5 separate regions of the Homo sapiens genome follow, and all the other regions are linked to region 2. Evidence: fine-mapped expression QTL. A gene starts in region 2. Each other region holds a variant in brackets. All regions are shown on one strand. Distances are between the middles of the regions. Region 1 overlaps RBM34 (RNA binding motif protein 34). Region 2 holds the start of TOMM20 (translocase of outer mitochondrial membrane 20). Region 3 overlaps ARID4B (AT-rich interaction domain 4B). Region 4 has its middle 25 kb from the start of LINC01348. Region 5 has its middle 13 kb from the start of TBCE.

Evidence for each region. PIP is the estimated chance that this variant, and not a neighbour inherited with it, causes the effect. A credible set is the group of variants that fine-mapping cannot tell apart.
Region 1: its variant is the best candidate, but not a certain one, in a credible set for the expression of TOMM20 in esophagus muscle (GTEx, PIP 0.77).
Region 3: its variant is the best candidate, but not a certain one, in a credible set for the expression of TOMM20 in whole blood (TOPMed, PIP 0.68).
Region 4: its variant is the best candidate, but not a certain one, in a credible set for the expression of TOMM20 in tibial nerve (GTEx, PIP 0.69).
Region 5: its variant is the best candidate, but not a certain one, in a credible set for the expression of TOMM20 in nasal epithelium (TOPMed, PIP 0.53).

What each region holds. Positions count from the first base shown.
Region 1 is chr1:235,150,371-235,155,473 of GRCh38, forward strand. It overlaps RBM34 (RNA binding motif protein 34), which reads right to left. Exons shown (of 11, transcript NM_015014.4): 4 at 4,511-4,742; 5 at 2,336-2,395. Among named protein-coding and RNA genes, the nearest start is that of RBM34, 8.3 kb to the right of the region's middle. The variant T/C (reference allele first, on the strand shown) is at 1,986.
Region 2 is chr1:235,125,794-235,130,894 of GRCh38, forward strand. TOMM20 (translocase of outer mitochondrial membrane 20) reads right to left here and starts at 3,044. Exons shown (of 5, transcript NM_014765.3): 1 at 2,802-3,044. The coding sequence starts at 2,922. It overlaps SNORA14B (small nucleolar RNA, H/ACA box 14B), which reads right to left and starts at 2,144; the gene lies at 2,010-2,144. It overlaps LOC105379283 (a long non-coding RNA gene), which reads right to left and starts at 2,408. Exons shown (of 2, transcript XR_949295.4): 1 at 1,836-2,408; 2 at 1,126-1,176. RefSeq lists enhancers at 2,772-2,991, 3,222-3,321.
Region 3 is chr1:235,235,285-235,240,387 of GRCh38, forward strand. It overlaps ARID4B (AT-rich interaction domain 4B), which reads right to left. Exons shown (of 24, transcript NM_016374.6): 8 at 5,029-5,103. Among named protein-coding and RNA genes, the nearest start is that of MIR4753, 48 kb to the left of the region's middle. The variant A/G (reference allele first, on the strand shown) is at 2,842.
Region 4 is chr1:235,092,593-235,097,695 of GRCh38, forward strand. No RefSeq gene overlaps it. Among named protein-coding and RNA genes, the nearest start is that of LINC01348, 25 kb to the left of the region's middle. RefSeq lists enhancers at 740-1,323, 1,289-1,448. The variant A/G (reference allele first, on the strand shown) is at 1,931.
Region 5 is chr1:235,351,532-235,356,634 of GRCh38, forward strand. No RefSeq gene overlaps it. Among named protein-coding and RNA genes, the nearest start is that of TBCE, 13 kb to the right of the region's middle. The variant G/A (reference allele first, on the strand shown) is at 2,734.

The DNA of each region.
Region 1 (5,103 bases), 25 kb after region 2:
ACATCCTGTCATTAAAGATATTAATACATAAGTACAACATAAGGCAATAAAGTACAGGAATAATGCAGAGGAAAAAATATCACTTAATGATATAAAGTATCGGAAAAGCTTTGAAGAAGGGACATTTTTAGCCACATACTGAAAAATACTTTCATAGGCAAAAATGGTACTTTAAGGAAGGATTCCAGGCAAAACAAATGGACTGGCAAAGGGACAAAGGTGAGAAAACCCACGTGTAGAGGAACACAGGAGAGGCAGGGCCACACTGGAGAACTGCCAAGCTAAGAATTAAGGATGTATTTCACTGACAGAATAATTAACACAATGTACAGGTGCTGGTAACCCAAGAAGAAGTAAGACAGAGTATTTGTAACCACAGCTTACAGTCTGGTGGAGGAGGCAAACGACAATTTCAGTAGAGTGTACTAAGTACTGTAATGAGGGATGGGTGCTGTCAAATGCATAGCAGGGACACACTGGTAGCCTAGAGACTGGGGAGAATCAAGGTAGGCTCCCCAAAGGGGAGAAGGCAATAGCAGGCCCCGTGAGGGGTGTGTGTGTGGCGGCTGGGGGGATGGGGGGAAGGGCGTTTCATTAATGCAAGGCAGGGAAAGAGGTAAGGGTTCCGGGAAGAAGAGCTTCAGGAAGACTGAGTTCACAGTGTTTTGTTGGACAAATTAGAGGAAGACTGAAGGTAAGGAACTACAATAGGCCTCTGCGACTATTCTGACAGGAGGTAATGAGAACTTAGGTAGGACAAGGAAAAAAGAAAGGAATGACTCATATTAGGAAGAAATCACAGTTGAAAAACGGACAGGAGTGGCAAACACTAGCATGGGTGAGCCAATGAAGAGTCAAAGGCAACCACAAAACCTGCAGCCTGGGTGCCACTAAATACCACAGAAAAATCAGTAGGCAGCATAGGGTTGGGGTGAGAATGGATGGAAGTAAGCAGATATATTGAAATCAGGGTCTGGCAAGACACCCACACTAATGCATCAGCCAAAGGTCTAATACAGGGAAATGGAACTCAGAAGGGCAGACAAAAGATATGTGATAAGAGTGGGAAATAAATACCCTGACAGAAATTATGGGCACTGTCAAAGCTTTGGGTAACGTCTACTTCTATAGAAGTGGGCAGTTGTGCCTCCTCTAACATTTGGCAATTCCTGAAGATATTTTCCATTGTGAAAACTGAGGTGCAGGAGGTGCTACCAGCATCTAGTGGGTAAAGACCATGGATGTTACTAAACATCCTATAATACAAAGGGCAGCCTCCAACAACAAAGAATTATCCAGCCCAAAATGTCAACTGTATGGAGGTTGAGAAACTCTATTCCAGAGAATCACATGAGAAAGAGCAATTAGAAACATGAAAAAGGCTAAGTGCAGTGACTCACACCTGTAATCCCAGCACTTTGGGAGGCTGAGGCAGGCGAATCACCTGAGGTCACGAGTTTGAGACCAGTCTGGATAACATGGTGAAACCCTGTCCGGACTAAAAATACAAAAATTAGCCGGGCATGGTAGCGCACACCTGTAATCCCAGCTACTTGGGAGGCTGAGGCATGAGAATTGCTTGAACCCAGGAGGCGAAGGGTGCAGTGAGCTGAGATCGCACCACTGCACTCCAGCCTGGGTGAGACACAGCGAGACTCTGTCTCAAAAAAAAAAATAGAATAAACATTTCCTATATTCTAATATACATTAATTATGTAATAGTGCCCAAAAATGTACACTATGGTACGTCAACTAACTATGCCTATGCAGTTAAAAAAAAAAATCATGTATGGGAAAACCAAATATAAATGATACTTATTTCCTGCTCCAAAGAATGTGGCTATAACTGGTTCAGAGTGCTGAGCTGGTAAAATCCAACTCACTTCTATAAAGTTTTAATATTAAATTGACATAAATTCTTTATCTGTCTGTGCTCAGAGAACAAAGACTGTTTGCAGCAATCATACCCACCTCCCATACTAATG[T/C]GTATGATGGGACATAGGAAGAGAATGCCTAGGATTCCAGCAATGATAATCAGTATTAACTTTTCAGTCTATTCTGCTGACACAGTAAATAAGTCACCCATCCACCCTCCAAAGTACATTGCAGGCTTTCATAGCAAGAGTATCATTTTATTAAGTAAACTCAATACATTATTTAAAAAGTTCAAGAGTCAGCAGTAGATAGTAAGAGCAACTCTTTTCTTGGGTTAAATTTGAACCTATTGATTCAAAAGGTTAAAGTGCTTCACCATCTCACTAACAGCAATAAGTTCATCTGATTTAAATGCAATAAATTTTAATATTATGTAATTTTACGGGGGAATGAAACATACCAGAGAACGAAATCGTACAGATTCTATTTGTCCATACTCTTTAAAAAACGACTTCAGCTTCTAAAATTAAAAAAAAAAATACACATTAGCTGACCTTCAGAACATCAAATAAGTGCTACAAAAAGGAATTAAGAAAAATTGTCTGATAATCCTCTACTGCCAGGCTTTTTTTTTTTTTTTTGAGACAGAGTCTTGCACTTTCGCCCAGGCTGGAGTGCAGTGGTGTGATCTCAGCTCACTGCAACCTCCGCCCCCACGGCTTCAAGTGATTCTCATACCTCAGCCTCCCAAGTAGCTGGGATTACAGGCGCCCGCCACCATGCTCAGCTAATTTTCGTATTTTTAGTAGAGACGGGGTTTCGCCATGTTGGCCAGTCTGGTCTCAAACTCCTGACCTCAGGTGATGCAACCACATCAGCCTCTTCAAGTGCTGGGATTACAGGCATGAGCCACCGCACCCGGCCTACTGCCAGTTTTTAAGAACATTTCAGGAAAGTAGGTGACTATTCAGTTGGATGAACAAAAAAATTTTACTGAAACTTGTGAGACTCTGTCTCAAAAAAAAAAAAAGAAAACACAATTCAAGCTCCTATTAGTATCCATCGGATGTATGCTTTTCTTTCAATCTTTTATAACCTTTATCACATGTAAATTAAGGATAGACTTATAACTTCCATAGATTCTCTCATGTTTTCACATTGGTTTAAACCAGGAATAAACTTTTTTTTTTTTTTTTGAGACAGAGTCTCACTCACTGTCACCCAGGCTGGAGTGCGGTGGCACGATCTTGGCTTCTGCAACCTCCCCCTCCTGGGTTCAAGCAATTCTCCTGCCTTAGCCTTCAAAGTAGCTGGGATTACAGGCATGTGTCACCACACCCAGCTAATTTTTGGGACTTTTAGTAGAGAAGCGGTTTCACCATGTTGGCCAAGCTGGTCTCGAACTCCCGACCTCAGGGGATCCGCCCGCCTTGGCCTTCCAGAGTGCTGGGATTACAGGTGTGGGCCACCACGCCTGGCCTCAAAAAGGTTTTTCTACTGTTTTTAATCAAGTAGAGTTTAAACTGTCCTTCAAAATATGAGCAGGATACCGAGCTAAGGATTGCAACAGTTACTATCACATGAACATGCAGAAGCAAAGGGCAGGTTTTGCTTCAGTGATCGTCACACAACGGAAGAAACTCAGGACATCTTCATTCTTTAAACAACACATATTTACTATGCACAAGGCACCATTTCAGGTGTCAAGAGACAGAACGAGGCTGGGTGCGGTTGCTCATGCCTGTAATCCCAGCACTTTGGGAGGCCGAGGCGGACGGATCACAAGGTCAGGAAATCGAGACCATCCTGGCTAGCACAGTGAAACCCCGTCTCTACTAAAAATACAAAAAATTAGCTGGGCGTGGTGGCGGGCGCTTGTAGTCCCAGCTACTCAGGAGGCTGAGGCAGGAGAAGGGTGTGAACCCAGGAGGCGGAGCTTGCAGTGAACAGAGATCGCGCCACTGCACTCCAGCCTGGGCAACAGAGCGAGACTCTGTCTCAAAAAAAAAAAAAGAGAGAGAGAGACAGAATGATGAAAAAAGAGGATCAGGCCCAGTGGCTCATGCTTGAAGTCCCAGCACCTTGGGAGGCTAAGGAGGGCAGATCACTTAAGCCCAGGAGTTTGAGACCAGCCTGGGCAACATAGTCACAAAAAAAAAAACACAAAAATTAGCCAGGCACGGTGGCGTGCGCCTGTAGTCCCAGCTACTCAGGAGGCTGAGGCAGTAAGATCACTTGAGTCCAGGAGTTTGAGGCTGCAGTGAGCAATGATCATGCCACTACACTCCAGCCTAGGTGACAGTGAGAACCTGTCCTGAAAAAGAAAAGAAAAAGGAAAGACATCTTTAAACATATGGAGCTTACTTTCTAGTGGCATATAACAGGAGACAAGGCTGAAAGAAAGAAACCAGGCAGGAGGTCACTGCAATATTCAAATATAATCTGCAAAAGCCTGAATTGGCAGGGACTACAGGAATGAAAAGGAGGGGGTGGATACTGGAATCCATTCATATTAGGATGATTTATGTAATAATTTACAATGAAGTTATATCCATGACTTACTATTGAATGCTTATTCAACACAGGAAGAACAAAGTTATTAACTTCTCTGAACTTTTACCATATACAAACTCACCTTCTTATTACATGTAACAGGCAAATTCCCAACAAACACAGTTCTCTCATTCTTTAATCTCTCTTCTTCTTGGTTGATTTGAATTTTCTTTCTTTGACTGACAACTGTGTCTTCTGTGTCATCAAGTATTTTTCTATCTGCTACTTTAACACCAGGTTGAGAATTTTTCCTTTTCTGCCCTTGTTTCTGGTGAATTTCTTCTTCTAAATCAGCACTCGCTAGAGCGCTTTCCCTTTTTAAGGCAAAAAATAAAATAAGCAGTAAGAGTCATGCCAGTTAGGTCTAGTATTTGACAAAGCACAGCCCTACCCTCCCGACTAGAAATATTTCCCAATGTCTTCTGAATTTTCCTAGATTTACTACTCACAAATATATCAAAATTTTTAGAGCAGCGCTATCTAGAAACTGACTAGTATCTTTAGAAAAAAAATGATTTAACTCAAGATTTAGAAAAAGTTAAGCTCTTTTTTTTTTTCTTTGAGACAGGGTCTTGCTCTGTCACCCAGGCTGGAGTGTAGCAGCGTAATCACAGCTCACTGCAGCCTCAACCTCCCAGGCTCAGGCAATCCTCCCACCTCAGCCTCCCAAGTAAC
Region 2 (5,101 bases):
GGCTGGAGTGCAGTGGCGCCATCTCGGCTCACTGCAACCTCAGCATCCCAGGTTCAAGCGATCTTCCTACCTCAGTCTCCCAAGTAGCTGGGACTACAGGTGCGTGCCACCACGCCCAGCTAATTTTTTTTTTTTTGTATTTTTAGTAGAGACGGGGTTTCACCATGTTGACCAGGCTGGTCTCGATCTCCTGACCTCATGATCTTCCCACCTTGGCCTCCCAAAGTGCTGGGATTACAGGCGTGAGTCACTGCGCCTGGTCGATAGATTAGATTAGATAGATAGATAGATAGATAAAGATAGATAGATATAGATATAAATATATATAAAGACACACACACACACACACGTATATTTTGGAGACAGAGTCTTGCTCTGTCCCCCCAGGATGGAGTGCAGTGGTGCAGTCTCTGCTCACTGCAACCTCCACCTTCCACATTCCAGCAATTCTGCCTCAGCCTCCCAAGCAGCTGGGACTACCGGCGTGCACCACCACACCCGGCTAATTTTTGTATTTTTAGCAGAGTGGGGGTTTCACCATGCTGGCCAGGCTGCTTGAACTCCTGACATGAGGTGATCCGCCCACCTCGGCCTCCCAAAGTGCTGAGATTACTAGCGTTGAGCCACCACACCCAGCCTCAATTACCTGTGAACAGACTGCAAGATTATTCTAAATAAATTTTACAAAAACATCAAACAACAAAATATTTCTACTCATAAAAATATCTCATCCGGACGCGGTGGCTCACGCCTGTAATCCCAGCACTTTGGGAGGCTGAGACGGGCAGATCATGAAGTCAGGAGTTCGAGACCAACCTGGCCAATATGGTGAAACCCTGTCTCTACTAAAAATACAAAAATTAGCCTGGCATGGTGGTGTGCGCCTGTAATCCCAGCTACTCAGGAGGCTGAGGCAGAATTGCTTGAACCCGGGAGGCGGAGGTTGCAATGATCCGAGATCACCCCACTGCACTCGAGCCTGGGCGACAGAGCGAGACTCAAACAAACAAACAACAACAACAAAAAATCTCTAGCATTCATCAATTACCATGTGTGAGGAACAGGACTAAAACTCTACACTATACCATTTTACAAAAAGGGAAAACTAAAGCTTGAAGTTACTTGCCTAAAGTTACTGCTGCAGCTAAGTAATTCACTGTAATCATTAGGTTGCCGCTAAATCCAGAAAAAACAATTTTAGATTGAAAATGATGGAGAAGTTATTTTGAAATAACATTCCTCCATTTGTCTAAAATGATAGCTCTTGTTTCTGCAACAGGACTTCAGGGTTTCCAACGGAAGATAGGGTTAATCCATTCTTTATAACTCTGCATTTGTACCAAAGCCCCCAGCTGTCACCCATTTTGGCAACTACAGGACAATAACCCGAAGGCAGAATGACCACCAGCATTTATGGAGGAGCATTTCCTATGTCAGAAAACGTGGAAGGCAATTCAAACATCTCAACCTTCACAAGATCAACAAGAGGTAGGTGGCATTACCTGATTTTACAACTACAGAAATTAGGATTCAGAAACCCCAAATTATGCCGCTAACCTGGCCCTAGAAATTCAAGGTCTGAATGTAAAACAGTATTCTATTAGTCTGCCTAGTCATAAATCAAATTATGTCTATATCCCTTCCCTCCTAAAACATAAGAAAGCTGGAACTAGATGTCTGATTCTTAGTGCTAGTAAGATCAGCGCTGCAGTCACTGCTCACACAGGGCTACTGAACACTTGAAATGACTTAGTATAGCTGAATTAAACCGTAACCACTGTTACTTAAGTAAACAATAATCCCTTCTTTGTACCCCTTGGGCTTTAGTAACTTACGTATCAATTTTAATTCCAAAAACTAATTTGGCTGAACAACCAAGATAAGCCAAAAAATATTTCTTATTGCAACAAATTTGCTCTTCAATGATGCGAATGAAGATTCTCCGAAAATTCAAGGTGGATCACAACGGTTTTCATGACACGATTCCCCTCTGGTAGACCTCTCTTAAAAGATGTCGCAGGTATGAAATAAGACTGAGCCACGGGAGAAGCGCAGCCCTTTGGACTCCCCTGCAATTTCTATAGCATTCACTCATATCTTGGAAGCACTTAGAACGAAGCTACCAAGAGGGTTTAAGAATGCAGCAATGAGCCAGGCGGATCATCTGAGGTCAGGAGTTCGAGACTAGCCTGACCAACACGGTGAAACCCCGTCTCTACTAAACACAAAAAATCACCGGGCGTGGTGACGCCCGACTGTAATCCCAGCTACTGGGGAGACTGAGGCAGGAGAAGCGCTTGAACTCGGGAGGCGGAGGTTGCAGTGAGCCGAGATCGCGCCACTGCACTACAGCCTGGGCGACAGAGCGAGATTCCGTCTCAAAAAAAAGAATGCAACAATGATACTGCACTGAGCATGCGGATTTAGCCTCAGACTAAAATTTGCGACAAAAATGCACGACTTTTTAGTTAAGAGTAGAGGTTTAAAAAGATGAACGACAAAAAAAGAGACAACCTCCTCCCCAGGCCACACACACCCGAGATTGCAACAGAAATCAAGAGTGCATTTGCACGGCTAAAGTGTCTGGGGAAAACAAAACGGGAAAAATCCTTCCTCCAAAATGGAATTCCTACGGGGCACTAGAGCCCCCGGAGCGGCGCAGCCAGCGCCATCGCCTATTGAGGGCCGCACCACGCGGTCGCCCTGCGCGGCCCACAGGCTGGTGGGAGGCAATGACCCCTCCTGTGAAGGGCGGCGGCCGAAGGCAGCAAGCCTGGCCAGGGGAGAGAGGACCCACTCACGTTCTCGAAGCCTGTTCTTGAAGTTGGGGTCACTTCGTCTTTTGCGGTCGAAGTAGATGCAGTACCCAATGAAAAGGGCCCCGCATACACCGGCGGCGATGGCGCTGTTCCGACCCACCATCTTCTCTACAACGCTGAGCGTGGACGGTGGCGGCAGGGACCGCGAAGGAGCGGTGGGCCACGAACCCTCAGAGCGGTCGGCGCAGCTCACACCCGACGGCCGCGGGCCAGGAACACAGAAAGGCCGAGCACACGCCACTTCCGGTCCCAGTCAACTAAGGGCCTCGAGGTCGTCCGCGGCAGAGCCTGAGCAGAGGCCCAGAGCGCGGCTCCTGCGCCTGCGCAGTGGGCGAAGCCGGCGTTTCCCCTGCGCCGCTGGGTGTACGCACTGGAGTCGGGAATTTGCACGTGACCACGGACTTTTTTTCATATCCGCCGACCATGCTGTAACGAGGCGTACGCGTTACTGGCGTGCACGTACTCAGAAGACTAGCTGACAGCCTTGTTTGTGGCAGACAGAGATGCAGGGTCCCAGACTGCGAATGCTTCATCTTGTCTAACACAGGCAGCCTGTGACTTGTTTGAATTAAACTGTACTTTCTTTTCAGGTTGCCACAATCCATTGTGCGTAGTGGTTCCATTTCAAAAGAATGTTACAGGATAGCCTCATTTTATGATAACTGGAATAAAATTAAATGGAGTAATTTCTTGAAAAATATACACAATTGAAGAAAAAATAGAAAACGTGAATTGTTTTATAGCCACACGAAAACATACACATGATCAGGCCAGGCGCGGTGGCTCACGCCTGTAATCTCAACACTTTGGGAGGCCGAGGCAGGCGGATCACTTAAGGCCAGGAGTTTGAGACCAGCCTGGCCAACATAGTGAAACCCTGTCTCTACTAAAAATACAAAAATTAGCTGGCCATGGTGGCCGGGGCCTGTAATCCCAGCTACTCTGGAGGCTGAGGCGGGAGAATCGCTTGAACCAGGAGGCAGAGGTTGCAGTGAGCCAAGATCGAGCCACTGCACTCCAGCCTGAGTGACAGATCAGGAGTCCGTCTCAAAAAAACAAAATATATATATATATGATCTAACTTAAGATATTGACAAGGAAAATCGTGGGCAGAAAGCAGGCATTAAACAGACACTGTAAGTTGAGGGGTATCGAAGTCAAGCATCAGTGTCAAGAGACATTGGAACCAGAGCTACCTTACCTTGAATAGGGGCTGGGTAAAATGAGGCTGAGACCTATTGGGGCACATTCCCAGGAAGTTTGGCATTCTTGGTCACAGGATATTTACAGGGAAGGGAACAAGTTAATAATGTTTACCTAACAGACCCAGGAAATGTCCTGATGTCCTGATATCTTAAGAACAAAAGCATTCTTAGTTTAATTTTCCCTTTAAAGATAATATTGATCCTTGCAGAAGACAGTAGTTACACAGGATTAACAGTCCTTTGACAAAGACCAGGCAGTGTCTCACACCTGTAATCCCAGCACTTTGGGAGGCCCAGATGGGCGGATAGCTTGAGCCCAAGAGTTCAACACCAGCCTGGGCAACATGGTGAGACCCTGTCTCCACAAAAAAATTAAAAACTTAGCCAGGCGTGGTGGCACACACCTGTGGTCCCAACTACATGGGGAATGATGCGGAAGTATCCCTTAATCCCAGGAGGTTGAGGCTGCAGTTGAGTTATGATTGTACCACTGCAGTCCAAACTGGGTGACAGGGTAAGACCTCGTCTCAAAACAAACACACAAAAAATCCTTTGTCACAAGCTCTTGGAGTAGAGCTCATCTTCCTCATTTTTTTGCTGTTCAATACAAACAAGCCTTGTACCTAAGGTGGACATGTTCCTTCTCTTGCTTTAGGGTATGCACCATTCTACAAAGTAACCTTTCACTTTTTTTTTTTTTTTTTTTTTTTTTTGAGACAGTCTTGCTGTCACCCAGGCTGGAGTGCAGTGGCATGATCTTGGCTCACTATAACCTCCACCTCCTGGGTTCAAGCGATTCTCCTGCCTCAGCCTCCCCAGTAGCTCGGATTACAGGCATGTGCCACCACACCCAGCAAATTTTTGTATTTTTAGTAGAGATGGGGTTTCACCATGTTGGCCAGGCTAGTCTCAAACTCCTGACATCTGGTGATCCACCCACCTCGGCCTCCCGAAGTGCTGGGATTACAGGCATGAGCCACCGTGAGTGATCTTCTTTATTTTCTTAATAAACTTGTTTTCACTTTACTCTGTGGACTGGCCCCAAATTCTTTCTTAGGCAAGATCCAAGAACCCTTT
Region 3 (5,103 bases), 110 kb after region 2:
GACATCCAAATGAAGACAGTGAACAGAAAAATCAGGTCTGGAGCAAAGCGTAGAGGTCTGGACTCAAGGATATAAATTTGAGAGCCCACAGCCTAAATATTAGGGGTCTAAAACTTGGGGCTTGTGAGCCAAATCCACTCATTACTTTTCCCTGATGAGCGAAGGATTTCGAAAACTGCACATGTGATAGCTTTGGCCAGTGATGACACTGGTGTATGAGTAAGTGGGCTCACTGTCCAGTTCTGCCACAGAACGACAATATGCATTTTATCCCATTCACCCATGTATGTTATTTTCTTGGTCACTTTATCTCTTTGCTATCTCTGCAAGGTGAAGCTTTAAAAGGAGATGAGATCACCGTAAAGAAAATACAGCGATACATTCTGAATCCTGAATTACAGCTTGAAAGGGTGATTAGAAGAGGAGAACCTGGTGAAAAAAACTGAAAAGGAGAACTGCATGAGCCATGGAATCTAAGATTTCCCCCTCTTAAAATGAAATTGGAAAATAAAAAATTGAGACTGAGAGTAAGTCTCAATTAGGATTAAACAATACTACTTATATTAATAAGCTCAGCACAGTCCTAGTCAGGGTAAATACTCAGTGCATGGTAGTTATTTATAGTTCCTGGGACTATGTAGTTGTTTCCTTTTTCTTTTTCTTTTTTTTTTTTTGAGACAAGGTCTCACTCTGTGCAGTGGCGTGATCACGACTCAATGCAGCCTCAACCTCCCAGGGTTCAATCGATCCTCCCACCTCAGTCTCCCAAGTAGCTGGGACTACAGGCACAGGCCACCCAGACCCAGTTAACTGTTTTCTTATGATGTTACTAAAACACTTTGAATTTACTCGATTTATAAAAATAACATAAATTAGAAACACAAATACTATTTGTGCGATTATATCAAGATTGGTCGATTTAGAACATAATTTTTCACTCTAGTTACCAAAAACTATCCATCACCGTCCAATGGATCTCAATTTTGGGAGGAGATAACATACATCAATAATTCTAAGAATTTAAAAACAACAGTGAAATGGCTGACTAAACAGATTACTAACCTTTCAATATTAAAAATCCTTAGATTTTTCATTTTCGTCAAAGAAACTTTTTAGTGATTATGGTGTGAGAAGCTTAAATTAATAACTCAAAACACTAATATTAAAAAATTTAATGTTCCTATTGAGAAAAAGACTTACAAAACAGTTGTGTGTGTGTGTGTGTGTGTGTGTGTGTGTGTGTGTTTGAGATGGGGTCTTGCTCTGTCACTCAGGCTGGAGTGCTGTGGCACGGTCTCAGCTCACTGCAACCTCCACCTCCCGTGTTCAAGCAATTCTCCTGCCTCAGCCTCCCAAGTAGCTGGGATTATAGGCTCCCGCCACCATGCTCGGCTAATTTTTGTATTTTAGTAAAGATAGGGTTTCACCATGTTGGCCAGGCTGGTCTTGAACTCCTGACCTCAAGTGATCTGCCCACCTCGGCCTCCCAAAGTGCTGGGATTACAGGTGTGAGCCGCCGCGCCTGGCCCACAAAACGGTTTTATAAAAAATATATATATATATATATATATATATATATTTTTTTTTTTTTTTTTTTTTTTTTTTGAGATAAAAGTCTTGCTCTGTCACCCAGGCTGGAATGCAGTGGTGTGATCTCAGATCACTGCAGCCTCCGCCTCCCAGGTTCAAGCGATTCTCCTGCCTCAGCCTCCCGAGTAGCTGGGACTATAAGCACGCACCACCATGTCCTGCAAATTTTTCCATTTTTAGTACAGAAGGGGTTTCACTATGTTGGCCAGGCTGGTCTTGAACTCCTGACCTCAGGTGATCCGCCTGCCTCGGCCTCCCAAAGTGCTGGGACTGCAGGTGTGAGCCACTGCAGCTGGCCTTAAAACATACTTTCAAAAGAAACTCACAAAGACTCCTAGTGCTTTAGAAAGAAAGAAAGAATCGCAAACACTGATGCTTTTTTTCAGCTTAATAATTAACCCAAAGTGTGGCAACTAACTTAACCCTGCTAATACTCAGTTTCCTTATCTCTACATCGGGATAAATAATAATACCTATCTCATAATAGGTGTTAGCACACTCCTTGTACATATAGGTATCCACTAAATGTTGGATACACAGGAAGGTACAAAGGTATTATAAAATATTTATATTTATTAAAACAAATAATTGTCCTCATTTTTCACTATCATTACAAGAGCTGACATTTACTGCATATTTAATTTGTGCCGAACACTGAACTAAGCAGTGGAGATAAAGAAATAAGACATGTTGACTAAAAAGGGTAAATGGACATCACAAGTAGAAAACAGTAAAAACAAAGGTAGTTCTATTGTTTCTTTTTCATTTGAGACCATGGTTACCTAGTTTAGCACAAAAACCACAAATATACAAAAGAGTTTATATATATTATGGACATAAGTTTTCATACAAATACATATAAACAAAGGACAGTGTTTTAATCCCATTTCTAAGTCTCTGCAATTGTTAGTCAATGAGCAGGAAAATGAGAGAATGAGAATAAAGAGTTAGCAGATTCTCAAGCACAAATTGTAGAGAAAAGTTTATTAATCATCACCGGGTGTGCTGGCTCATGCCTGTAATCCCAACATTTTGGGAGGCTGAGGCGGGCAGATCACCTGAGGTCAGGAGTTGGAGACCAGCCTGACCGACATGGAGAAACGCTGTCTCTACTAAAAATACAAAATTAGCCGGGCATGGTGGCTTGTCATACCAGCTACTCGGGAGGCTGAGGCAGGAGGATCACTTGAACCTGGGAGGCGGAGTTGCAGTGAGCCGAGATCGCACCATTGCACTCCAGCCTGGGCAACA[A/G]GGGCGAAACTCCATCTCAAAAAAAAAAAAAAGAAAAGAAAAGAAAAGAAAAAAGGAAAGTTTATTAATCATGAGAACAAAAAACCTCTACACCACTAAATGAGTCTATCTTTGTTAAATATTTTGAACAGAACTTGGTATATGATAAATGCATACCTAACAAATATGTGTTAATCTTGAGAACACAAAAATTTTATTGAATGTCATTAACATAAGGGAAAAAAGCATTAGAGGAGAATTTGGCTAATTATTTTTAGTAAGGGAGTGAGAACATACAAAACAGAGACAGAGAATAATTTTGACCCATTCTGTCTCTCGATATTTGAGAACAAATTAGTTGTCAAACGTGAGAATAGTACTTTCAAAGTGTCTTTTGTTTATCAGCGGATCTTCAGTTTATAGCTTATTAAATATGAAGTGAGGGGAGGACATATTTGTAAAAGATGTGGGCTGGGCTCAGTAGCCCCCACCTGTAATCCCAGCACTCTGGGAAGCCAAGGTGGGAAGGTCACTTGAATCCAGGAGTTTAAGACTAGCCTGGGCAGCATAGGGAGACCTCGTATTTACAAAGTATTTAAAAATTAGCCAGATGTGGTGGTCTCCACCTGTAGTGTGAGCTACTCAGGAGGCTGAGGTGGGAGAATTGTTGAGCCCAGGAGGTCAAGGCTGCAGCGAGTCAGGATCACACCACTGCACTCTAACCTGGGTAACGGAGTAAGCCTCTGTCTCCGGGGAAAAAAAAAAAAAGTGGATCTCACTGTTTGATGCAAATGACTCAATGGTCTTCAGATAAAATCATCATAGGACAATTCAGACATATCAAAATTTTAAAGAGTTCAAGATAATTCTTTTTTTTTCTTCTTTTTTTTTTTTTTGAGAGGGAATCTTGCTCTGTCGCCCACACTGGAGTGCAGTGGCGCGATCTTGGCTCACTGCAACCTCCGCCTCCTGGGTTCAAGCTATTCTCCTGCCTAGCTGGGATTACAGGCATGTGCCACCACAGCCAGCTAATTTTTTTGTATTTTTAGTAGAGACGGGGTTTTGCCCTGTTGGCCAGGCTGGTCTCGAACTCCTGACCTCAGGGGATTTGCCCACCTCGGCCTCCCAAAGTGCTAGGATTACAGGTGTGAGCCACCACACCCCAGCCAAGATAATTCTTAAGAGATACTGATTATTAACTTCAGTCTCCTACTTGAAATTTAAAACCTTAAGTGATTTATCCAATTATATGCTGTCCAGAAAAAAATGCATTCTTATTGCCACAGAGTTAAATCTTCATTAAAGTATCATATATAGCTAATTATTAGTTGAACCTCTATTTGCTTTAAGAGCTACAAATTATTTTGTCTACCAAAAGATTATTTGAAAAGCAGCCTAGTTATGTCCGTGAAAGATATTAGTATATGTTCCCTTTCTAAAAGTCAAAGAAAATGGTCTATACATGGCCCTTTCAACTTGCTAAAGAAGCTAGTGGTTACGAAAAACAGAGAGATAAAAAGCTCAAAAGGCTTTCTGTCATGTCTTAACAGTTTGAAATACAAGAACTTGGGACAATCATGAGGATACTCCTGATAATAAATCTTGAGTACCTCCTCAGAATCACAAAAAGGCAACGTGAGAAAACAAGGAAAAAATGCAAAATATTCAACCTGGAATCTAAGGAATTGCAATCTTTTGGAGAGAAAAACATTAAAAAGTAGGTAGAATTAACAATCTACTGTAGAGAAAATTGAAGAGTGGGGTAATGTATAATTGCAGTCATGATTATATAGGGAGTACCTAAAAGGCAAGATTAAGATCAAGGATGGAAACACCCTGATTCACTAAGTATGAGGAAAAGGTCTAGTTATCCCTGTCAACCAAGAAAGATTCTGTTGTTCTTTTGCAATCTAGACCTACATGGACTTAGGAGCTTTAAAAGTTTGCATCATGAATTTTCTACCGAGAGAGAGAGAATTCAACTTCCACATAGCTAAACCTCTAAGATTATCAAGATTTTGCCTTTCCTGAATGACATCAAGAGTTCTTTGTATTCAAAGACAACGTTGAAAGTAAGCTTAGTGTGAACTAAATAATGCTAAAAACATTTCCTCATTTTGTACCTATGAAAAACATTAGTAAGAAAATTGTTTTCTTCATAAACTTATAAAGTTTGAAATTAAACTCTTGTATACTGAAGCTACTCACCAATGCAGGAAACCACAGTGCTTTCTTTTTATCCAAACTAATGTAATCTACACATACAACTTTGCCTAGTAGCTC
Region 4 (5,103 bases), 33 kb before region 2:
CAATTGCCACATCCGTGTGAAACAAGAACACCACCTAGAAAGGTTTAGAAGGGTTAGAGGTGACTGCCCGGGCGCGGTGGCTCACGCCTGTAATCCTAGCACTTTGGGAGGCCGCGGCGGGCAGATCACCTGAGGTCGGGAGTTCAAGACCAGTCTGACCAACATGGAGAAACCCCATCTCTACTAAAAATACAAAATTAGCCGGGCATGGTGGCACATGCCTGTAATCCCAGCTACTCAGGAGGCTGAGGCAGGAGAATCACTTGAACCCGCGAGGCGGAGGTTGCAGTGAGCCGAGATTGTGCCACAGCACTCCAGCCTGGGCAACAAGAGTGAAACTCTGTCTCAAAAAAAAAAAAAAAAAAAAAAAAAAAAAGGTTAGAGGGTTAGAGGTGACTTAAGTAACAGCACTCAGCATCTAGCACACAGTAGGCCCGGAGTGATCATTACTACTGGCTTACAGTGGCTTCGCCAGCACAGTCAGCCTCATGGGAAGGAGCACCCAAGTCTCAGGGCCACTCCCTGAGCACGTGTGAACTCAGCGGGATCCTTGCTGACTGGAGTCCCATGGGGAAGCATGACGGGGAGCCGGGAAGCGCTGGTCGTCCGAACGGGGCGGGAGCCTGGACAACAGGGGTACGAGGACCCAAAGCCTTCCCCTTGTTTCCTCCTCATCAATTCTCAGCAGAGTGAGGGGTGAGGAGTTAGGCCCTAGGGAGCAGGAAACAAGCAGGGATCCGGCCACACACCCACCTTCACCTTGATCCCCGGCGGGACGTCCCCACCCCTTCCCAGCAAGGCAGCCCTCAGGAGCTGCAGCCCAAGTGTCTCGCCTGGAGCTTCCAAGTGCAGAGCCTGATTTTTGAAGAACCACTGCCACACTCTGGCAAATGCAAGGAAGTCATTCTCGGTGCTGTGGCCTGGGGACCATCACGAACTGTCCTAGAGCGCAATCCGAATGCAAGCAGGGGAGAGGAGGCCCCAGCAGGCTGGATGCTGCTACGGGGAGTGACGGTCACCCCTGTGTGTCCAGAGCCCACTCCACGCCTGGAACGCAGTAAACACTGCATCGACAGTGGCCCTCCCCGCAGTCCCCCTTGCTCACCCCCTTAGCTCCTGAGCTCTTTATCATGCTTTCCGCGTGGCCCTGCTCTCACCTGACTGTAATCTGCATTTATTCCCTGTCTCCAGCTGATCTGTGAGTTCCACAAAGGGGAGAAGCCACCTGCTGGGCGGTCTTGCATCTGTGGCAATGCCTTGTGCATAAACAAACCTTCGCTAAATGTTTGTTGAGCGAACAGAAGAGCGAATGATGCACACGAATATGGAGGTCTACTAATATGTGCTTAAGGAATTAAACCGGTGATGATAGAGATGAAAGAGGCGGGTAGGTCATCGCAGTGCCTGCGGTAGGCACTAGATGGCGCCCAAGCACACCAAGAAGGCGCTGAGAGGCGGGCCGAGCAGCATGAGTTTTTGGTATAGGGGTTTCCTGGAAGATTGAAGCAGTTTATCTATGAGGGCCCCTTGACTGAAAGTCTAAGATCTGGTACAAATAAGCCAGGATCAGCGGGACATGCTGTATTACAGTTCTCCAGGGAAACAAAACCAACAGGATGTGTGTAGAGAGAGGAAGAGTTTCACGTTGAGGAATGGGCTCGTGATTGTGGAGGCTGGCAGGTCCTAAACCCAAGGCGTGGGCCAGCACAGTCCAGACCCAGGAGAGCGGAAGGTGCAGAGAAGTCCCAGGGCGTTCTGCCGGATAACTTCCCTCGCTTGGGAAGGCCAGTCTTTTTGTTCTACTTAGATCTTCAACTGATTGGATGAGACCCACCGACATTAGAGAGGGCCTCTGCTTTACTCAGAGTTTACCAATATGTTTTGGGATTTTTTTAAATATAAAATGAGATCCTGCTATGTTGCTCAGGCT[A/G]GAGTGCAGTGGCACAATCATAGTTCAATGCAGCCTCAAACTCTTGGCCCCAAGCAATCCTCCCACTTCAGCCTCCCAAGTAGCTAGGATTACAGGTGTGCACCACCATGCCTGGCTGTAATGTTGATCTCATACAAAAACACCCTCCCAGTTGACACATAAAGTTAACTATCACACACACAGCTTGAGCTGTTGTTCCAGAGAAGCCGTGATCTTTTTTATTGTTTGTTTGTTTTTTGGAGATGGAGTCTCACTCTGTCGTCCAGGCGGCGCTCAGCTCACTGCATCCTCTGCCTCCTGGATTCAAGCAATTCTCCTGCCTCAGCCTCCCGAGTAGCTGGGACTACAGGCACACGCCACCGTGCCCAGCTAATTTTTTATATTTTAGTAGAGACGGGGTTTCACCCTGTTGTCTAGGCTGGTCTCGAACTCCTGAGCTCAGGCAACCTGCCCGCCTCGGCCTCCCAAAGTGCTGGGATTACAGGCGTGAGCCACCGTGCCCGGCAGCCGTGATCCTGCATGGAGACCAACATCCTCCATCTCTCCCTCTTGCCTTCTCCCAAGAGCCCCATAATAAGTGCGAAGTGCTGGAGCAGAGACCTGTTTCCTCCCAGAGAAATCCAAAGGTTCATGGATCAGAATGTTTTGGTTTTTTGTTTTTGTTTTTGTTTGAGACGGAGTCTCACTCTGTCGCCCAGGCTGGAGTGCAGTGGCGCGATCTCGGCTCACTGCAAGCTCCTCCTCCCAGGTTCAAGCCATTCTCCTGCCTCAGCCTCCCCAGTAGCTGGGACTACAGGGGCCCGCCACCACGCCCGGCTAATGTTTTCTTTGTTGTTGTTGTTTTTGTTTGTTTTTTTTTTTGTATTTTTAGTACAGATGGGGTTTCACCGTGTTAGCCAGGGTGGTCTTGATCTCCTGACCTCGTGATCCGCCCGCCTCGGCCTCCCAAAGTGCTGGGATTACAGGCGTGAGCCACCGCGCCCAGCCAGATCAGAATGTTTTTTCCACGTGTGGCCAGGCACGGTGGCTCACGCCTGTAATCTCAGCACTTTGGGAGGCGGAGGCGGGCAGATGACCTGAGGTCAGGAGTTCGAGACCACCCTGACCAACGTGGTGAAACTCGTCTCTACTAAAAATACAAAAATTAGCTGGGTGTGGTAGTGGGCACCTGTAATCCTAGCTACTCGGGAGGCTGAGGCAGGAGAATCGCTTGAACCAGGGAGGCGGAAGCTGCAGTGAGCCGAGATCGCACCTCTGCACTCCTCCAGCCTGGGAGACAGAGTGAGACTCCATCTCAAAAAACAAACAAAAAAGAATGTTTTCCCACACACGACCCCACAAGGCAATGCAGAGAATACTACCCAGGACATGGTTCTAGGTTCAACTTCTGAGGACACTCTCCCAACCTGTTTTATAGATGCTCTTTGTAGAATTTTTGTCAGTGTTTAAAAATTAGCTTAGCCCTAAAGGTCTATGAATTGATGGTAAGTAATTTAATTGGAGATGAGTATGTGAGGAGACAAAGGAAGAAACGTTACCCTCTCCACTGAGCACAGCTAATACCGCAGATAGGAAAGAGCTTTCAGCATATTCACTGATTGGAGTCGTGTTTACATTCCTGTTGTCAACTGGAAATATTTGCTTGTTTAAAGGAAGCTTCCTGAGTGTCATCTAATTGTTAAATCTCTGTTCTGAGGGAAAGTTCTAGGTGTAGACCCACACCGCACAGTTCGTAAGTGACCATGTGCTAAGGCAAGGCACAAACTCGCCTTAGCTGCTAAATTATTTTCTTTCACCATAAAACTGCAAACAGTACTGCAAACAAATCTGCAAACAGTACTGCAAACAAATCTGCAAACAGTACTACTATCAGCAAAATCATCCATTATTTTTCCATGTTAGTATTTTTTAAGCCACTATTCTCAGAAACAAAACAAAACCTTTATTTGTGTTTAGACATCATCAGTTAGCATCATAAAAACCTTTGATTAAAGCAAAATTAGGCCATTGGTAATAGACTCACAAAAACCATTGGGGAAAAAACTGCTTCATCCTTTGAGCTACTCTCTACTTTGCAATCCAGTTTTTTAAATAAGGTTTCTAAATACACAACATGAGTAGTGACCTGCTGGTGTTTCTAGCTTGGAAGAAAGCCATGGAAGCCTGTCCCTTGGTCCACTTAGGAGAGAAGAGAGAGACAAGGCAGCCGAAAGAAAGTTCTCCAAAGTGGAGGTGCCCTTCTACAATGCTAGACAGCCCGAGCATACTCTTCACTCTTTTTGTTTGTTTTTGTTTTCGTTTTTGTTTGAGACACAGTCTCGCTCTTGACACCCAGGCTGGAGTGCAGTGATGCGATCTGGGCTCACTGCAACCTCCACTTCCCAAGTTCAAGCTATTCTCCTGCCTCAGCCTCTTGAGCAGCTGGGACTACAGGCGCCCGCCACCATGCCCAGCTAATTTATGTATTTTTAGTAGAGATGGGGGTTTCACCATGTTGGCCAGGCTGGTCTCGAACTCCTGACTTCAGGTGATCCACCCGCCTCAGCCTCTCGAAGTGCTGGGATTACAGTACAGGCATGAGCCACCGCGCCTGGTTTGTTTTTTTTCTTTCAGATTTTATGGCTTTATTTAAACACAAATAATATGTACACATGGCTGCCCATTCATTTTCTTGGCGGGGCAGCCCAGCATTGGGATTGCTGACTCTGACGGCAGCTGGGCTGCTCTTCCCGAAACAGCGTTGCGGTTCTTGGTTCTTGGAGGAGGCACGGCGAGCGGTCCCTGCACAGTCAGATTCACTGCCCATCAGCAGCACTTCCAGTTTCTTGATGTAGTGGACCAGGAACTGGTCTAACTGGTGCCAGATGAAGTTTTTGATCCTCTTTTGGATGCTCTTGGGCTCCATGAGGGGTCTGAGGGAGCCATCATTCAGAGTAGGAGATAAATGTCACCTCCGTAGACAGAACCAAGGAAAGGGTTTTTTTTGTTTTCTGGGGGTTTGTTGTTGTTTTTTGAGGCGGGATCCCATTTTGTTGCCCAGGTTATGCAATCATAGCTCACTGTAACCTCAAACTGGCGGGCTCAAGCCATCCTCCTGCTCGTCTCTCCAGTAGCTGGGACTACAGGCACATGCCATCATGCCCGGCTAATCATTTTTAAAAAATTTTTTGGCC
Region 5 (5,103 bases), 230 kb after region 2:
CTTAGCTAAGTATTTCGTAGAGACCTTACAAAGCAAAACTTAAATATGGCCTTTGGTTAACTAATGGCCTTTCAAAGGCTATGACTGACTTAATACAAGGTCTTTTTGTTATGCCTTACAGACCAATTGCACTCTGCTGGTGAGACGCTGACTTCATAGTAAGGCAGCTGGAAAACATCTCTTTAACATGGATTCATGGCAGGATTTTTCCAATTCAAATAATGTACCATGTCCTTTAAAAGAAAAACAATACTCTTGGACCTCTACTGTTGACCTAGTTTTTTTTGTTTTACTAAATATATACTTAATATATAAAAGGTATACTTAATGCATAAAAAGGCATGAACTCTGTAGGTGCTATTAATACCCTTGTTTATTGGCTATTCTCCCATCCTAATTCTTCCTAATCACAGTTTAATTTCCTTTTGGTGAATTACCTCTCCCCAGTTGGGCACAGCCAAAGTAACCCATACAGAAGCCAAGGGGTATCAGGACATTGTTATATCTTTCCTCTCAGTGACCTGTACAGTCAAAGGTTGGATACATGACCTAATCTTGGCCAGTTGGACTGTCTCCAAGGAGATTCTTGAGTGGAGAAAACGCTTCACTTATCTGGCAGCATATGTTGGCCAAATGGTACCTGTTGCTGTGGTTCTTTGTCTCAGTTCTTTGTCTTGAACCTGAACCCGGTTCTCCTGCCCTCCTATTGTACTCTGAACTATCTAAAATCCTACTAATAAGTTAGTCAGGCTGGGCGCAGAGGCTCAAGCCTATAATCCCAGCACTTTGGGAGGCTGAGGCAGGCAGATCACCTGAGGTCGGGAGTTCAAGACCAGTCTGACCAACATGGAGAAACCCTGTCTCTACTAAAAATACAAAATTAGCCAGATATGGTGGCGCATGCCTATAATCCCAGCTACTCGGGAGGCTAGGGCAGGAGAATCACTTGAACCTGGGAGGGGGAGGTTGCAGTGAGCTGAGATCATGCCACTGCACTCCAGCCTGGGCGACAAGAGCAAAACTCTGTCTCAAATAAATAAATAAATAAATAAATAATAAGTTAGCCAGATCTCCCAGCTACATGAAGACAAAAAGAAAGCAAAAGATTCTATAAGAGATTATATAGTAAGTTACTATTTGTGAAAAAAAAAAATAAGGCCAGAAGCGGTGGCTCACGCCTGTAATCCCAGCACTTTGGGAGGCCAAGGTGGGCAAATCACCAGGTCAGGAGTTTGAGACCAGCCTGGCCAACGTGGTGAAACCCCATCTCTACTAAAAATACAAAAAAATAGCCGGGCATGGTGGCGCGCGCCTGTAGTCCCAGCTACTTGGGAGGCTGAGGCAGCAGAATTGCTTGAACCCGGGAGGCAGAGGTTGCAGTGAGCCAAGATTGCACCACTGCACTCCAGCCTGAGAAACAGACCAAGACACTGTCTCAAAAAAAACAAAACAAACAAACAAAAAAAACAAAAGAAAGAAAGAAAGAAGGAAGGAAGGAAGGAAGGAAAAAGCCGGGCATGGTGGCTTACGCCTGTAATCCCAGCAATTTGGGAGGCCAAGGCGGGCAGATCACGAGGTCAGGAGTTCGAGACCAGCCTGACCAATATGGTGAAACCATGTCTCTACTAAAAATACAAAAATTAGCCAGGCGTGATGGCTAACACCTGTAATCCCAGCTACTCAGGAGGCTGAGGGAGGAGAATTGCTTGAACCCAGGAGGCAGAGGTTGCAGTGAGCTGAGAATGTGCCACTGCACTCCAGCCTGGGAGACAGAGTAAGATTCCGTCTCAAAAAAAAAAGAAAAATATTTGCACAAAATATCTAGGGGTAGGACCTGGGAGACAGAGGACTAGGAGGTGGGAGGAGCAAGAGAGACTTCTCACTGTATACCTATTTATTACTTTTCATTTTTTGGAAGCATGTGAACATGTCATCTATTCAAATATTGAAATTTAAAAAATAAAGGCACCAGTAAATGAGAAAACCAACAATAAATGCTAAGCAGATAATTTCAAGAGTGGCTACTTACATTGGGTATCCGGGGAAGACCTCTGAGGGAGTAGCATTTAAGCTGAGCTCTGAATGATAAGAAATTAGCTATACCACAATCCTAGTAAAGAACATTTGAAACCAAAGGAATAGCCAACAAAGGTCATAAGGTGGGAAAGAATGGTGCCAATATGTACAAAGCAACATAGGTATTAGATTGTGTAGGAATTTGTAAATCATAGAAAGGACTTTAGGTTGGGTTTTTTTTTTTTTTTTTTTTTTTTTTTTTTTTTTTTGAGATGAAGTCTCGCTCTTGTCCCCCAGGCTGGAGTGCAGTGGCGCGATCTCGGCTCACTGCGACCTCTGCCTCCCGGGTTCAAGCGATTCTCCTGCCTCAGCCTCCCGAGTAGCTGGGATTACAGGCACCTGCCACCACACCCGGCTACTTTTTATATTTTTAGTAGAGACGGGTTTTCACTATATTGGCTAGGCTGGTCTCAAACTCCTGACCCCAGGTGATCCACCTCCCTCGGCCTCCCGAAGCGCTGGGATTACAGGCATGAGCCACTGCGCCCAGCCAGACTTTAGGTTTTAAAACTAACTGCAACTTGAAGCCGATGGATGGTTTTAAGAAAATGAGTAAGGCCAGGTGCCGTGGCTCACGCCTGTAATCCCAGCACTTTGGGAGGCCAAGGTGGGTGGACCACCTGAGGTCATGAGTTTGACACCTGAGGTCATGAGTTC[G/A]AGACCAGCATGACCAACATAGTGAAACCTCATCCCTACTAAAAATACAAAATTAGCTGGCCGTGGTAGCACATGCCTGTAATCCCAGAAACTTGGGAGGCTGAGGCAGGAGAATCACTTGAACCCAGGAGGCAGAGGTTGCAGTGAGGGAAGATTGTGCCATTGCACTCCAGCCTGGGCAATAAGAGTGAAACTCCATCTCAAAAAAGAAAAAAAAAAAGAAGAAGGGGAGTAAAGGCCAGGCGCAGTGGCTCACACCTGTAATTCCAGCACTTTGGGAGGCTGAGGCAGGCGGATCATGAGGTCAGGAGTTCGAGACCAGCCTGGCTAACATGGTGAAACCCTGTCTCTACTAAAAATACAAAAAATTATCCAGGTGTGGTGGTGTGCGCCTGTAATCCCAGCTACTCGGGAGGCTGAGGCAGGAGAATTGCTTGAACCCAGGAGGCGGAAGTTGCAGTGAGCTAAGATTGCGCCATTGTACTCCAGCCTGGGTGACAGAGCAAGACTCTGTCAAAAAAAAAAAAAAAAAAAGAAAGAAAGAAAGAAAAGAAGAGAGAAAAGAAAAGAAAAAAGAAGGGGAGTAACTAGATCTGAATTACCTTTATAAAAGATCATCCTGGCATCTGAGTGGATGATGGACTACAGAGAGTCAGAAGAGGAGGTAAGGAAACCAATTAGGAGGGTGTTTGAGTGTCCAGTGAGAGATGGTGGTAGCAGAGAACATGGTATGAAGTAGTTGAATTGGGGATTATTTAGAAAGTGGAGTTTATATGAATTACTGGTGGATAGGATGTAGAGTTAATGGAAAGAGGAGTCAAGGATGGTCTTTAGATTTTTTATAAGAAACTGAGTAGATGGTGATAAATCATAAATCAGACTTAGGAAGACAGGGAAAGGGTAGGTATTAGGGGGAAATTAGAGCTGCCTATCAAGCATCCAGGAGGAAATGTCACTGCATGCACAGGCTAGATTCAGGGGAGATTCAAGCAAGGCTGAAGTTAGATTTGTGGATCATTGGTGATCACTTAAGCCCAGGATTGGATAGGTTACCTAGAGATATTGTGTAAGAAAGAAAAGAAGGGGCCTCAGCACTGATCCTGGCATGCCACGTATAGGAGTATTTTTTTCTTTTCTTTTTTGAGATGGAGTTTCGCTCTTGTTGCCCAGGCTGGATTGCAATGGCACGATCTCAGCTCACCACAACCACCGCCTCCCGGGTTCAAGCAATTCTCCTGCCTCAGACTCCTGAGTAGCTGGGATTACAGGCATGTGCCACCATGCCCGGCTAATTTTTTGTATTTTTAGTAGAGACAGGGTTTCTCCATGTTATCAGGCTGGTCTCGAACTCCTGACCTCAGGTGATCCACCGGCCTCAGCCTCCGAAAGTGCTGGGAATACAGGCGTGAGACCCTGCGCCCAGGTTTTCTTTTTTTTTTTGAAACAGCTTTGCCAAGGCAAGATGGCTCCCATGCTGGTAATTCCAGCACTTTGGGATGCCAAAGAGGGAAGGATAGCTTGAGCCCAGGAGTTCAAGACCAGACCGGGCAACATAGTGAGACCTTGTCTCTAAATAAATAAATAAAAGCCAGGCATAATGATGCACACCTGTGGTCCCAGCTACTTGAAGGCCAAAGCGGGAAGATTGCTTGAGGTCAGGAGATGGAGACCACCCTGGGCAATATAGTGAGACCTTGTCTCTACAAAAAAAATTTAAAAATTAGCCAAGCGTGATGGCAAGTGCCTATAGTCCCAGCTACTCGGGAGGCTGAGGTGGAAAGATTGCTTGAGCCCAGGAGGTTGACGTTGCAGTGAGCCAAAATTACAACACTGCATTCCAGCCTGGGCAACAGGGCAAGACACTGGCTCCAGAAAAAAAAAAAAAAAAAAAAAAGGTTGGATCTGCTGGCTCACACTTGTAATCCCAGCATTTTGGGAGGCCGAGGCGGGTAGATCACCTGAGGTCAGGAGTTTGAGACCAAAAAATAATAATAATGATAAATAAATAAATAAATAAAAGAAAAAAACAGACAAACAAAGAGTTCAAGACTAGCCTGGCCAACATGGTGACATGGTAAAACCCTGTCTCTACTAAAAATACAAAAGTTAGCCAGGGGCTGGGCACAGTAGCTCATGCCTGTAATTCTAGCACTTTGAGAGGCTGAGGTGGGTGAACCACTTGAGGTCAGGAGTTTGAGACCAGCCTGGCCAACATGGTGAAACCCCACCTCTACTAAAAATACAAAAATTAGTCAGGTGTGGTGGTGCATGCCTGTAGTCCCAGCTATTTGGGAGGCTGAGGCAGGGGAATTACTTGAACCCAGGAGGTGGAGGTTACAGTGAGCCAAGATCGAGCCACTGCACCCCAGC